2 linked regions of the Homo sapiens genome follow. The protein of the gene in region 2 purifies or fractionates together with the protein of the main gene of each other region. This does not show direct contact. Each region holds a gene or a part of one and is shown on either strand. Other genes may lie near its edges.

Region 1 (3,483 bases), on a different chromosome or scaffold from region 2:
GGTCCACCTCCCCACAGACCTCCCCTGCTGCCATTCAAGGGCCACCTTGGTGAGATGCCCCGGCCCCCACCAGCCACCTCAGACTCTGGGATCTCTCTGTCCTCCTCGCCCCTCCCCCACTCTCAACAGGGGTTGTGAAACAGGTGGGGTTGGGCCCAGGGGTGACTGACACATAAGACCTGCAGGACAGCCTGAAGAGGGTGGCATGCCCCGCACCCAGGCAGAGGGGCAGCGGCTGGTGTGTCAGGGGTGCCCTGAGGAGTTTCTTGTTTGCCCTGCGCTCATGGTTTAGCCACAGCCCAGCATGGCACTGTCCAGAGAGGCCATGGCCCTGTCATGCCTCCCATGTTCCAAGAAGCATCTGGCTCCTGGAGGGCTGCTCCTTCCTTTCCCCCAACCCCTCACCCTCCTGTCTCCAGGGCACCCTCCCTCCCCCATGTGACCACGCCCTGGACGGAAGCCCTGCTGGGATCCCAGTGACCCTTGGTTTAGAAGATGCAGACGGTGTCAAACTCTGCTTTATTGGAATAGAGAATACAGGCAGCAGGAATCACGCTTGGTGCTGGCAGCTCCAGGTCCCCTGCCCCCACGGGCTCTCCCACTTGTCTGGATCAGGGGAGACCTCCACTTTGAAGAACAATATGGGGTGGGAGCTTCCAATGTGCATTCTGCTACCAGCCTCAGGATTAGCAGCAAGATGCCAACAGCAACAGCAACAGCAACAGCAACAGCAACAGCAACAAAGGACTGGACTCGACACTTCAGGAAAGGACGTGTAGAAGAGAAAGTCAGACCCACAGTGTCACGTGTTAACAACGGTCCCACAACAGCAGACACGACACTGGTGTGCACGGCTGTACCACCTGTGGGAGGCTGACAGCACACCGACAGCCCTGAGGGGCCCGGCATTCTCACTCCCAACATGAGAAAGAATTAACACAACACACACACATGTTCACATTCTCTGCGAGGACAGTCAAATTAAGGTACCAAAGGGAGGATAAAACATTTTTAGAGAACACAAAAGCCTGCTGCCCTGCCCCAGTAGGCGTCAGGCTGGACACGACAGGCTGGCTGTGGCCTGGGCTAGCCGGTGAGCTCGACAGGCAGCTCACGGCCACACAGGGCCTCCCACTGGCGAGCCAACAGCGAGATGAGCTTCTCTCTGCTCTCAGCACTGGGGACAAACACCTGCCACTGGACTTCACGGCCCTGGCTGGCTCTAGCCGGGCCACCTGGCACCTCCCCAAAGTGGTCCAGGGTGACACTGCCCATGAGGTCATGACCTTGCACGTCATCGAAGACGAGGGTGAGGGCCTGCGGGTAGGTCTGGTAGCCCATGAGCACTCGGTCCAGGTCCCGGACGCGGCGGCCATCGTCCAGCCGGTACCTGTCTCTCTGCGGCGGCTCTTTGGCAAACTCGGGCAGTGGGTAGTGGACACAGTCCTCATCCAGGAGGAAGATCTCGGAGCTGGTGAGCAGGAGTGTCTTGGGGCGCAGGGGGCCCCTGCAGCACCCAGGGGGTGGCATGCCCACCTGGAAGGCCTGCACGTACAGCAGGATGCTGAGGGCTGGGGCCTTCTCTGGCTCAGCCATCTTTTGGGCCACAGTGAACGTCAGGTCCCCAATCTCCTCCTCACTGGGGTAGGTAAACTTGACGCGACTAGAGTGGATCAGCTCGTAGTTCTCCATCTTCCCTGCAGAGAGATGCCACCTGGGCTATAGCCTGGAACCGGCCCCTGGTGGGGCTGGGAGCACCAAGGGCCCCAAGCCAACCGAGAGACCCCGGCATGAGACAGGCAGGAGAGGATGCTCCAAGTGTGGGGCCCACAGGCCAGGAGCCCAAAGCAGGCACTGGAGATGTGTCTGCCAGATGGTTGAGGGACTGCTGGAGTGGAGACTCTGCCATCGAAAAGCCCCACATAAAACCCTGGCCAGCTAAGTGAGAAAAGAGAGACATAGAGGCAGAGAGGGTTCTGGGGCACAGAGAGCCACCCTGGGGCCCATGACGTCTGTCCAGGCAGCCTGTCTGCAGCCTGAGCTAGACAGGGGTACCTGTGGTCTTGTTCCCAAACTCGGAGTAGAAGTCCTTGTCAACAGGCTCCGGCGAGGGCGTGCGTTCCAGAGAGGACAGCACGACCATGAGGTGCTGGAGGAAGCAGTGCGTCAGGTAGCTGTCCCGCGTCAAGCACGTGACCACCTGCATCGGGGTGGAACCTGCACGAGAAGGGGCTGGTCAGGGCCACAGGCCGGCGCTCCCCAGCCCTATCCCTGCCCCTTAGAGCCACCCCGAGTCCCTAGCAAGCCTCAGCCCAGAGGCCAGGGCCAGGAGGGCCCACACAGGAAAGAATCATGGGGCCCGGGAGGAGGCCATTCCTTCAGGCCGGAAGAGCTGAGGCATTTTTCTGGAAGGGGAGACAGAGACATTAGGCAAAGAGCTTAGCTTTCTCTCCTCAGGAAATGTGAGTCAGAAACATCCTGCCCGAGACCAGGGCCCACTCTGCTTCTGTCCGGGCCAGCGCTTGCCGCACACCCTACCTCCTGCTCTGAGCCCTGGAGCGTGAGTTCTGCTCTCTCAGCAGTTCCTGAAGCTGCTTCCTCCCACCCCGGTTAAGAAGTGGCTCTTGAGCACAGAGATAACTGTCTATGATAACCCACCCACGTACGGAAGGTGGAAGCCCACTGGTGATGCTGGCCTTCACCCGAAATAGGACAAAGCACAGAGGGTCACCCACCCGTCAGCCGGAAATGCTGGTCGAAAAGCCCCACATTGACTGACTGCAGGTCACTAAGCTTTAGCACGAAGCACTGGGAGATGTGGAAAGGGCTGTTGTTGTAGTCGGTGTTTTTCTGATGCCAGAAATCTGTGTGATGGAGAAAGGGACAGAGGGAGGCGGTGGCAGGCAAGCACAAGGTTCCTAGGTGTGCAGCACATCCAGCAGGAACAGGTCCTCTTGGCTGGCCTGGCTTCCACCCGTGCAAAGCCCCATAGGCAATGCCCTCTGGAGTCGGAGCCTCTTCCAGCTCAGGGGAGTCACCAGGTCGCTGGCTAGGGCTTCCTGTGCAGCCCCAGGGGCAAAGGCTGCCTAACCCCTTCTCATCACTGGCTGTTCCCAAGCAGTCACCAGGCCCTGGCTCAGTGCATTCTGCGTTCACATCTGGCCATGGACCCCTCCCTCATGACAGCTCCCTTCCTCAGACAAGGAACTCTCAGCCCACTGCAGCCAAGTCGCTGACTGCTGCCTGAAGCCACACAGCTGGCTCCAGAGAATGACCCCCCAGGCCTGCCCCAACCACACACTCCAAGCTCCTGAGCCCCAGCAGGCCCTGTGCCTACCCTGCAGTGGCTCTGAGAAGTAGCGGCGGAGGCCGTCGTGGAGCACAAAGTACACAGCCTTGGTGGAGAGCAGCACGCAGGCAGTCACCTCCAGCCCTGGGGTCTGGTAGAACACCACCGAGGACCACATGAGGTGCCTCAGCTCC
Region 2 (3,176 bases):
TCTCCTTGCTTCCCACCCCCAACAGGCCCCTGTGTGTGATGTTCCCCTCCCTGTGTCCATGTGTTCTCATTATTCAACTCCCACTTATGAGTGAGAACACGTGGTGTTTGGTTTTCTGTTCCTGTGTTAGTCTATATTTTATTCTTGAACTAATGCTGTTTTATTTAGATAGGAAACATCCAGTGGAGAATAGTTGGTAGGGAAAGTTTTGAGAATTACCAAATGTAAGCAAAGCTGATTTTAGAGAAATTATTCTAGATTGAAAGCCAGATCTGATGAAACCCAAAATCTCCACCTTATTCTCTACAGGATGCTGCCTCCCCCAAACAAGCATACACTTTCCTATCCTTTTGAGTAAGGACAGACACCTCTCTATGTGACTGTGTCATATTAGGAATAAGCACTTTATGATATCTGCCACCAAATAATTTTGATTGTCATGAGAATGTCTCAGGAGGAAACTGACTAAATGGACCTTAGGGAAATGAAGAGATGACATGTCAAATCTAGATACTTATTTTACTTCATCAGTTCCAATCACAACACTCATCATACATCCAATGACAATATACATATCTTCATGGGTACTACCATTTTGCAGAGGCATCATTTACTAATGCAATTATCCAATTGATTTAATGATACTAGCTTTATTCTGTGTTATTATATTCCATATTATACAATGATAGGATATTTGAAGAGACATATAATTTTGTAAGACAAGACTCATTACATGATTGTATTATTTTCTATGACATATTTAAAGAGTTTAATAACATGTATAAGTAAAAACAAATTTAGGAGAAGAGTCAAGATATTTCATGTATTCCAAAGAACTGATACTAGTATTGAGGAAGCTAATAGCCTAAAATTATATCCAAGGCATGGCCACATCTTTTTCCCTGAAAAATATAATAGAAAAGCATTTTAATATCATTGGACTGCTTTGCATAAAACATCCTAGATATCTTACAAATTGCTTATTAAAGAAATAGAAAGCTTTTCTTTCACTGGCATTCATACATACAGAAAAAAGGTCATAAAAATACTGAAATCTCTTTAGTATTTCTTACTGAATAACTTGATTTGCCTTGTACAATATAGTACATTAGTAAGGAGGCTTTCCTAAAGAGGTATTATTACTGTTCACTTGGTTGTGTTTTTATAAACTTTTTTCATCTGAAGAATGCTGCGTGCTCATTTTTATGGAAGGAGAGATCAAAAGAGGCTCACAGGCAGCAGGGAGGAGATTTCAAAAACTTTGTCTTTTAGTTTGCCCTTCAAGTTAAATTGTTTGCTTTTCAGTGTGTGTTTTTACTTTTTGGTGCTGTTCCCAGACTGCCCTTCTATCAAACTCCTATTGTGGCCTCATAGCCAACCAAGCTGATTAAAACAGGTAATTAGTTCAAGATTATGTCTGATATAAAAGTCATGGAATTTGAAATTTTCTTTTCATTGTACAATTTCTTTATCATTTTGAGATTTTTACTTAATTTCAAACTAATACAGATATATTGGAATTATTACAATGTTTACTTGCAAAATGAAATGATGATTTGGGAGAATTGATTCTGTATGGAGTGTCTATAGAATGTCTTTTACAATGGACCTAGAATATCTAGTATTTGTGTTTTCAGAGAGTATACCAAACTTATAGGCAGACATGATTCTCAAAATTTAATTTTGTTTTTAAAAATTGTTGAAGTCCATAATTATTATTAATTTTATAGGTATATATAGCTAACTTGTTTTTATAACTACTTTGGTAAGAACTCCATTAGCTCCTCTGCCAACTTTTTTCTTTTGTCTTCTTATGTAGGAATTGTCGTGGCACCTAATTCTTGACTTTGGCAAATACCTACCAAAATGTCTGAATGATCAGGGCAACTTCTTATGGTTCCCTTAGGCTGTCAGTCTTGTCCTAGTGAGAAAAGGACATTCATAAGAAACTGTTATTAAATTGAAATTAAATTATATTCTGATTAATTGATTATCAAAAACAAGTTTTGGCCACCTTATTCAGAGTTAAGACCACATATTTTTCATTAGTTATCTTCTTAATTTCATGACTAAGTCCTATAAATTAAAGCACTAATTTTATCACTGTATTTTTTCATTAGACAATTTTTTTGCATAAAGTGAAGTTTTCATGACTCTACCTTCTCTTCTGGGAGCTCTGGGGTAATAGTTTGGTCTACAGCAGAAGTGAAAACATTGGTTGTGCTGGGTTTTGGTGAAGTTGAGGGCATGAAAACTCCTGCACTGTCATGTCTAAAGTTGATCGCTTCTTTTTGTAAATATGGTATCTCTTCTCCTGTTGACTACAGAGAATGAGAATGAAAACAAAGTTGTCGTAAGTTCAACAAGAAGGCCAAAATTGGGAAGAATGTAAAGCAACAGGATTGAGATGTAACAAAAGCATTATATTAAAAAAAGAGTTGCTATTATTAGTATTTTTAGATTATAAGCTACATAAAAGACCATGAATATATACCAGCAAACATTGTCTCTTAATATCTGCTTTTAAATAAAGGTGCATCAAAGAGTACCTGGCATAGCATACTTAAAAATACTGATGAACTGAGTAAGAGTGAACTGAATCTTTACTGGCAAAATATTGTAAGAAGAAGAAGAAGCAAAAATTATTGATGGAATTACAACAGAGTTGATATTAAAATGAACATTAGTGCAGTAAGTTGTCAATTGTTGATTTCCAGTAGCTGGCAAAGTGTTGTAAGGAATCTTACCATCACAGCAATTTCAGGAGCTGTGCCTAGTTGGGGATCAAAAGCTAGTTGCTGCTGTCCTCCTGATATAGCCTAAAAACACAAAAAGTTTTAAAAAGTCTAAATCAGTGATCGTTGAAAATATGCTCTTTGGCCACCCAGAGTACCAGAGTAGTAAAACACTCCCAAACTTCTTAAATTATTTTGCTAAAAACAGAAATAATAGTTTAATTTTTGCTATTAGAGAACTGGCTTGACATCTCGCCTCTGCTTCTGTTCTGAAAGTGCTACTTTCTAACATTCTCTACTAGGACCAGGTACTTACCTGTTGAGCATAAAGAATTCTACAGAACACCAACATCAGAAGGGGTGGAAAAAACAAGACAATTTCAAAATTTTGTCTGAAGTAAGGTCACCATACAAGTTACGAAAATACCAGGTGTTCTCACA

What was found.
Region 1: the proteins of ODAM (region 2) and NISCH purify together in Homo sapiens (affinity purification with mass spectrometry; one large-scale study listed by BioGRID and IntAct). This does not show direct contact.

What each region holds. Positions count from the first base shown.
Region 1 is NC_000003.12:52,490,086-52,493,568, reverse strand, and holds the end of NISCH (nischarin), read right to left. Parts: coding exon 3,338-3,483; intron 2,865-3,337; coding exon 2,736-2,864; intron 2,218-2,735; coding exon 2,056-2,217; intron 1,698-2,055; coding exon 1,087-1,697; 3' UTR 501-1,086; downstream 1-500. UniProt on the Homo sapiens protein: Acts either as the functional imidazoline-1 receptor (I1R) candidate or as a membrane-associated mediator of the I1R signaling.
Region 2 is NC_000004.12:70,201,901-70,205,076, reverse strand, and holds the end of ODAM (odontogenic ameloblast-associated protein isoform 1 precursor), read right to left. Parts: intron 2,820-3,176; coding exon 2,748-2,819; intron 2,322-2,747; coding exon 2,160-2,321; intron 1,922-2,159; coding exon 1,892-1,921; 3' UTR 1,863-1,891; exon of another isoform or gene 1,862-1,862; intron 903-1,861; 3' UTR 501-902; downstream 1-500. UniProt on the Homo sapiens protein: Tooth-associated epithelia protein that probably plays a role in odontogenesis, the complex process that results in the initiation and generation of the tooth. May be incorporated in the enamel matrix at the end of mineralization process.